Regions from separate parts of the Homo sapiens genome. Here region 2 is linked to region 1. Evidence: fine-mapped expression QTL. A gene starts in region 1. The other region holds a variant in brackets. All regions are shown on one strand. Distances are from middle to middle. Region 1 holds the start of BAG4 (BAG cochaperone 4). Region 2 overlaps NSD3 (nuclear receptor binding SET domain protein 3).

Region 1 (4,531 bases):
GAATATTCTCACCTACACCGCCAGTCCCCCAACCTCTGGCAACCATTAAGCTTTCTGTCTCTAGATTTACCTACTCTGGCCATTTCATATAAATGGAATCACACAATATGCAGTCTTTCTGACTGACTTAGCTCACGTAGTGTGATGTTTTCAAGGTTCATTCATATTGTAGCATGCATCAGCAGTTCATTCCTTTCTAAGGCCAAATAATACTCCATTGAATGAATATATTAACACCATATTTTGTTTATCGATGCATCAGTCGTTATGTCCTTACAACATTCCTGTATTCGAATAAAGAACCAGGGCTCCAAGAGGTTCACTCACTTTATAACTCAAATAATAAAATGACATTTGGGGCCGAGCGCAGTGGCTCACGCCTGTAATCCCAACACTTCGGGAGGCCGAGGGGCAGGGGAAAGGGGGATCACTTGAGGTCAGGAGTTCAAGACCATCCTGGCCAACATGGCGAAACCCCGTCTGTACTAAAAATACAAAAATTAGCCGGGTGTGATGGCCGGCGCCTGTAATCCTAGCTACTCGAGAGGCTGAGGCAGGAGAATCGCTTAAACCGGGAGGCGGAGGTTGCAGTGAGCCGAGATGGCACCACTGCACTCCAGCCTGGGCAACAGAGCGAGACTCCAACTCAAAAAAAAAAAAAACAAAAAAAACGACATTTCTACTTTTTGGCGATTATGAATAATGATGCTATGAACATGGGCGGACAAGCTTTATGTGAACATACGTTATCAGTTTTCTTGGGTATATAGCCAGGAGTGGGCTTGCTGGGTCATAGACTAATTCTAATGCTTAATGTTTTGAGGAACTACCAAACTATTTTCCACCATTTTACATCCCCACCAGCAATGTACGAGAATTTCACTATTACATTTTCAACAAATGAGGATAATTCTTGAACGAACAGAGAGGTATGCTGCCACCGCAGAACGACAACCCACTACCCAGAAGACTGTATTAACAAAGCAGAAGTATATGTCCGGCAGGAAAACGGAGAATAAAATGTTGCAGGTCCAAGTGTATTAGGCAAGTGAGTTAACCTCGCAGAGCCCCGGTTCCTTATTCGAAAACAAAAAAAAGGGCCGCTGTAATGCCATTTTACCTTGCAGTCGCCGTGAAAATTAAATCAGTCAATCCGCGTAAAGGTACTTTACAACACTGATTATTCATGATTCGATCTCAGGCAAGGCATTAGGGGCAAACAGCTAAATGCCCAGATCCCTCCTCCTCGCAAAGGTTCCTTCCCCTCGGGAGGGTCCCTGAGCGGCATCGGGGGCTGCAGCCACTTCCCTTCCCCGGGAGAGCCGGCCTGCCAGCCACGCAGGATAAATTGCTAGAGCTGGAGCAGTAGATCCGTGCCACCCCTACCCAGCACCGCTCCCAGGAGAGAGATCTGCAGCCTGCTGCTAAGCTTAGTAAGTCCGCGCAGGATCTTTCTTTTTTAAATGGTAATAAACATATTTTTTGGGGTCGAAGCAGAAAAGGAGGGGCAAAGGGAACACAAGCATGTCCCCCCAACCTCTGATCTTAGTCTCGGTCTCTCCAACACCCCCCGCAACACACCCTCCTCCACATAAGGAAAACAAGTATGAAACCCGATCCTTTACGAACCCCAGCCCCAAGGGCCCTCACCTCCCCGCAAGGACAGAGGGTGCAAAGCTTACCTGGTGGCTTCCTCCGGCTCGACCAGGCTCTGGCCAGGCGCCTCCCGAGGGATAGTAGCCATCGCCTCCTCCGCCTTCTCCCAGCCAGGTGGTCTCCGCCGGGCCGCCCCCGCGCACCCGCCAGGAAATGGGAGGCTGGGGAGGTTCAGGGCGAAGAGGATATAAGGGTGGAGGTGGGTGTACCGGCACATCTCCACCCCCAGGCCCGTAGTAGCGGCCGTAGGACGGACCGTCACTGGGGCCGTAGCCCGAGCGCCTCAGGGCCGACATGGGATCCGCTGCCCTGAAGCGCTTCCCGCCCCGCTCCCCACGGCCGACCCATCGCGCAGGCGCCCGCGGGCGATTGCGAATGGAGAGCAGCGAAGGGGGTCGGACGACGCCAGCCAATCCCAGGCCCGGGCCCGCCCCTTCTGCTGCCGAACCCCGAAAGCTGAGGGACGGAGGTCAGTGACTCTGGGGTCTCGGGAACCCGGAGACGAAGGAAGACACCGTGTTCCTTAAGAGGGAGTATACGTTTCCTCGCCATTTATCCAATGGAGTTTCCTCTTACCTACTTAACAGGAACAGGGAAAGGGTGTCCCCCAACGGTACGGCTGCCCCGCCTCTTCCTGGGGGCCCACACGTGTTACAGGAAGTGGGTAAGGGTAATATGGAGGAGCTTCCGGCAGCCCCCGGCGGCTGAAAGCCGGGGCAGAAGTGCTGGTCTCGGTCGGGATTCCGGGCTTGGTCCCACCGAGGCGGCGACTGCGGTAGGAGGGAAGAGGTTTTGGACGCGCTGGCCTCCCGCCGCTGTGCATTGCAGCATTATTTCAGTTCAAAATGAACTATATGCCTGGCACCGCCAGCCTCATCGAGGACATTGACAGTGAGTAGTTTATCTCCTCCCGGTGGAGCCCGGGGTTAGACCCTTCCTCCCGGGCGGGCGCCTCTTCCGAAGAAGCTTGTAGAATGAGTCCCGGGCGGGGCCGGTGTGTTCTGAGCTCAATCCGGGCGTTCCGCGTCGATGTCCTCCACAGCTGCGGTACACACCGCTTGCCCACCCAGTAGCCTGCTGCTACTTCTGCCCCTCGCAGCCTCCGCCAGCCCTCTAGCTGGTGAGCCCCAAGCGATGGAACTCATTCTTGCTTCCGTGGATCGCGGCAGCAGAGGCCCGAACACGAAAGAAGCCCGGGGAGGGGGGGGGCTTCTCCCCCGTCCACTCCTGCCTGCAGTATTTCGAAGTATCAGCGTGTTACCGGTGGATGGATCGGAATACCTAGAGAGAGGATTCATTAAAAAGCGAAAATATTAAGACAGCGGCAGTTGGACTTAATTGGCAGTAAATGTAGGCGCTCTACGGTGTGGCCATTTGCTAGCTTATTTTACTGTGAGGGTCATTAGCACCTTCAGGTTATTGTAGTAGAGACCACTGTTAGACATGGTATTGACTTTTCTGGAAAGACCAAATCACTTGCAACCTTTTTTTTTTTTTTAAGACAATTTACTTTTGCTTTTACTAAGAAGACCTCCCTTATTCCTGGTTTTTGTCCGGAAGAGGAGCTCAGTCCTATACAAAAGCGAAAAGAACCGTCTGCAGTTGTTCTGGCTTTCCTTTTTTCTAAATTCCGTCTGTGCATTATTCCTCAAGCAACATTTTTTATTGTTTTAATCATGTGATCTTTCTCATTAACTTGTTTCAAGATGATTTACACATAGTTTTAAATAAGTTGCAATCGTCTCAGTTACTCTGTGAATACGCAATTTAGAATCTATGGTTAAAATTTCATTTTACGGGCCTGGCGCGGTGGCTCACGCCTGTAATCCCAGCACTTTGGGGGGCCGAGGCGGGCAGATCGCCTGAGGTCGGGAGTTCAAGACCAGCCTAGCCAACATGGTGAAACCCCGTTCCTACAATTAGCTGGGCACTATGGCGGTGCCTGTAATCCCAGCTACTCGGGAGGCTGAGGCGGGAGAATCGCTTGAACCCGGGAGGAGAAGGTTGCAGTGAGCCGAGATCGCACCATTGCACTCCAGCCTGAGCGACAGAGCAAGACTCCGTCTCAAAAAAAAAAAAAAAATCATTTTATGGTTGACAGATCTTTTTTCTTTTCTTTTCTTTTTTTTTTTTTTTTTTTGAGACAGAGTCTTGCTCTGTCGCCCAGGCTGTAGTGTGCAGTGGCGCGATCTCGACTCACTGGAACCTCCACCTCCCGGGTTTAAACAATTCTTGTGCCTCAGCCTCCCAAGTAACTGGGATTACAGGCGCCTGCCAGCACGCCCAGCTAATTTTTGCATTTTTTGGTAGAGACGAGGTTTCGCCATGCTGGGCAGTCTGGTCTCCAACTCCTGACCTCAGGTGATCCACCCACCTCGGCCTCCCAGAGTACTGGGATTACAGGCGTGAGCCACCGCCTCCGGCCGACAGATCATTTTTTTAAACACAAATTACTTATTGTGCTATGTAAGGGAAATGTAGTGTAATTGGACTAAATATATATTAACATCTATATGAACCTGTTACGTGTAACAGGATGTTTTAGTTGCTCGAGGATGCTCTTTTGCCCTCATCTCTCCTTATATATCCTCTAACACATCCTGCCATTTTACTAAAAATCAGTTTTGCTCTTTGGTCCTCTAACCCCTACCTCTTTGTAGATTCCAGACCCCCTACTTTATGAAAACTTTGAAGCCATTTGATATGCACCCTTTGCTCCCCAACCCTAACACACAGTTTCCTCCTTGTGTTTCTGTATTTTCACCCATCCTTTAATTTGAGTAGGAAGGATTCCTCCCTTTTTGTCTGTCTGTTGTTACTGTCTCCTCTCACTGCTTCTGGAACCTTTTTTCGTTGTTAGCCTTTTTCTTTTATA
Region 2 (4,000 bases), 170 kb before region 1:
CCAGTAGAGCTTAGATTTAACACTCATTGCTAATGTTTGCTACAAAATAACCTGAAATAATAGAAATCTTTTTATTAAAATCAGAGTTAGTATTAATAAATATTGATTAAAACTTCAGGTGAGTTTTTATAAAAGTCATCCTTTATAGGTAACTTAAGATATATGCTGCTGAATTTTTTAATATCTGAGATTTCAGCGTGAATTTGCTTAGCAATAATATAATAAGTATGTAACATAATTCTAGCTTAAATGAAGAGTTCATAATATAAATTGCAAATGTTTTCTAAACTTTGACTTGGGAAAACTATATTTATTTTTATGACAGCTATCTGCTTTTATATGTGTTATACCTGAATAAGTTAATTTATTTTCTGTTCAAAGAAATGTTTACTTCTTACCTATTCATCTTTTCCTTGGTAGCTGGCTTCTATTACTTCATACAACTCACATGTGATGTTTTTCTGGAGTAAAGGTCACAATGCTTCTAGACTCTCACAAGTCCCAGTGTGACATTTCAACATGTTTTCTCACTTTTTATAGTTTTCTTATTTATTCATTAACAAATGTTGGTGAAATGCTCCTCCTACTGTGTGCTAGGCAATGATCTAAGACTTAAAGGTATGACAATGAATGAAAAGTAGAGATGCCTGCTCTCAGGATGCTTATATTCTAGTGAGGGGAGCCAGAAAATACACACACATATACATATATATATACACATATATACATATATACAATATATATTTATATATACATATATATACATATATACATATACTATATATACTATATACATGTGTATATACATATATACATATACATATACTATATATACTATATACTATATATGTATATATACATAGTCTTCATAGCATCTAAAGCTAACTTATGTACACACATATACATATGCATATATACATAATACATAGGTATGTATATACATATATGTATATATACATATATACATACATATGCATACATATATGTATATGTGTGTACATAAGTTCTCATAGCTTTAGATGCTATGAAGACAATAAAACTGGGTAATGAGATAAAGAGTAATCAGTGATGTTTCTAGTAGTCATTTTGCAATGAGATTCTAAAACCAGTTCTGTCTCTGTTAGATGTCTGCTATACCTAGTTCTTTATATCACCTAAACCTTCAGTTAACTATTATAGCTCAGGATTAGAATGTTTAGATTTTATTTTATTTTATTGTTTTTGAGACGGAGTTTCACTCTTATTGTCCATGCTGGAGTGCAGTGGTGCAATCTTGGCTCACCGCAACCTCCGCCTCCAGGGTTCAAGCAATTCTCCTGCCTCAGCCTCCCGAGTAGCTGGGGACTACAGGCATACCACCACGCCTGGCTAATTTTTTTTTTTTTTTCAAGTAGAGACAGGGTCATGTTAGTCAGGCTGGTCTCAAACTCCCGACCTCAGGTGATCCACCTGCCTTGGCCTCTCAAAGTGCCGGGATTACAGGCGTGAGCCACTGCGCCTGGCCCAGATGTTTAGATTTTAATTTAAGGGTTTTAATTCATTTTCCCTTTTATTGAATCATGATGAGCAAAATTTACTATTTGATTGTTTAGGATCTTACAATAGCTTGGGATAAAGGAATATCAACTTGACCAAAAGTATAGCTGGAGAAAGTGGCATTGACTGCCTGGAATATTACTAGGAGCATTGCCTGAAAGTCGAGTCTTGGGGGGAAATCCAGGTTTTTTTCTTGTTCGTTCTCTCTCTCTCTCCCTCTCTCCCTGTCTCCTTCTCCCCCTCTTCCTCTCCCTCCCTCTCCCTGCTCCCCTCTCTGCCCCATTCCTCCCCCTTTCCATCCTACCCCCTCGTCCCTTCCCCCTTCCATTCCTTCCTTCTTCTCTCCCTTCTTCTCTGCCTCTCTCCTCTCTCTCTCTCCCTCTCCCTCTCACCCCTTCTTTCTTCCCTTCCTTCAAAGAAGTAAAGAGGTAAGTTCTTGTTAATTGAATTTTGATTAATTGGAACTGTATCACACACGGGGGCAGTTGTAGAAGTTGTAGTCCATTCTGACCACAGACCTTCAAAGCCAGAGCTCCCACAGCTCTTGCCTATCGTTAATGTCATGCTTTTGCTAAGCTAGA[G/A]ATGTGTATAAATTAATGTTTCACAACTGCATATATTTTTAAATTAGATTTCCTTAACTTGAACAACATCTACAGTGCTTCCTTCAGGACAGTTGTTTTAAGTGTTTTAATAGTCAATACCCTATGCCTACTGGTTGTCCATAGGGGTCCCAGCCCTTGGTGTTTAGCATTGTAGAGAACTGAGAAGTGAAAAGGAAGCCCAAAGAAGCATCCACTGACTTCACTGGACAGCTTCCCTCCCCCAGATGCCTCAGGGAAACATAATGAAAAATGTATTCCTGGAGAAAAAAGTCTGATTTAAATCTCCTGGAGCTGGATTTGCTTTTATATAGATTTTTTCTTTTACTTTACTTTGTTGTTGTTGTTCCTTAAAAGCTCACTCATAGGTTCATAGGTTCTTTTTTGAGCAAACAAAATCTCATATAGTTGAGTTCCATGTTTAAGTCCGGGCATGGTGGCTCAATCTGTAATACCAGCCCTTTGGGAGGCTGAGGTGGGTGGATCACTTAAGGTCAGGAGTTCAAGACCAGCCTGGCCAACATGGTGAAACCCCATCTCTACTAAAAATATTTAAAAATTAGCCGGGCGTGGTGGTGGGTACCTGTAATCCCAACTATTCGGGAGGCCGAGGCACAGGAATTGCTTGAACCTGGGAGGTGGAGATTGCAGTGAGCCAAGATCATGCCACTGCACTCCAGCCTGGGTGACAGAATGAGACTCTGTCTGAAAAACAAACAAATAAAAAAACACAACACCTTAAGATTTCACCTGCTACTTTTTTTCTTAGTACTTGATGTGTAAGTATTTCCCCCTAATTCTAAGCTGTTTGGCCTTCTGAAGAGTGGCTGTTATTTGGAACAACCTAAGTATATCTTCTCAGCAATGAAAATGTGTCCAAACATCTAGGCAGCAGGAGACCTGAGATCACTACTGAAATTGTATATTTTAAAAATCTGCATGAGCTGTTTTTCCTCCCACCAAATCAGAAATATGTGGCTGTGTTTCTGCATGTCTTCCTCCTTGGCAGGTGGAATGCCTCAGGCATGTGAGCGTAGGCCCTATTATTCAAACAGTCACTGGTCTCCTATCAGCACTTCAGTGGGCTAATCCACTAAGGCAGAGTCTCATTAACCCTTAGTTTGCCATATCCCCTTATAAAAAGCAGAGTGGCTGGATCAGTCCCGTGAACACTAAGGTAGCAGGTTTGGTTCTCTAGCCTCAGAGTATTAGGCCTTAAAATTCTTAGAAACTCTTTATATGCAAAATGTTCTTTATTGTACACATTTTTTATTTGATTTTATGTGTTTATTTTTGAGACAGAATCTCACTCTGTTGCCCAGGGTGGAGTGCAGTGGTGCAGTCTCGGCTCACTGCAACCTCTGCCTCCAGGATTCAAGCGATTATCCTGCCTCAGCCTCCTCAGTAGCTGGGATTACAGGGGTGTGCCACCACGCCTGGCTAGTTTTTGTATTTTTAGTAGAGATGGGGTTTCATTATGTTGGCCAGGCTGGTCGCGAACCCCTGACCTTAGGGTGATCCACCCACCTTGGCCTCCCAAACTGCTTGGATTACAGGTGTGAGCCACTGCACTTGGCCCACATTTTTTATTTTTAAGGTTACAAACTTAAGTCATTCAGAAAGTAAAATAAAAATGCACAATTTATTACCTTTAAAATTTTCTTTCCAACTTTAATGTTGACATCAGTTTTTTGTTCTTTTAGGGACTATGATTTTACTCTATGTTTTTGAAATTTATATAAGTAATATTATTAAGGCTTTGAAATTCTGACAGATTTGATGTGTATTACTAATCTTTTTTTTTTGAGGCAGAGTCTCTGTCACCCAGGCTGGAGTACAGTGGCACGATCTCGGCTCACTGCAAC

Evidence for each region.
Region 2: its variant is fine-mapped to the expression of BAG4 in whole blood (TOPMed, PIP above 0.99).

What each region holds. Positions count from the first base shown.
Region 1 is chr8:38,174,291-38,178,821 of GRCh38, reverse strand. It overlaps BAG4 (BAG cochaperone 4), which reads right to left and starts at 1,967. Exons shown (of 5, transcript NM_004874.4): 1 at 1,683-1,967. The coding sequence starts at 1,952. It overlaps LSM1 (LSM1 homolog, mRNA degradation associated), which reads left to right and starts at 2,329. Exons shown (of 4, transcript NM_014462.3): 1 at 2,329-2,547. The coding sequence starts at 2,502. RefSeq lists enhancers at 1,025-1,364, 2,275-2,424, 1,646-2,503, 2,835-2,924, 2,504-3,361.
Region 2 is chr8:38,343,133-38,347,132 of GRCh38, reverse strand. The region is part of intron 2 of NSD3 (nuclear receptor binding SET domain protein 3); the gene reads left to right. Among named protein-coding and RNA genes, the nearest start is that of NSD3, 37 kb to the left of the region's middle. The variant G/A (reference allele first, on the strand shown) is at 2,118.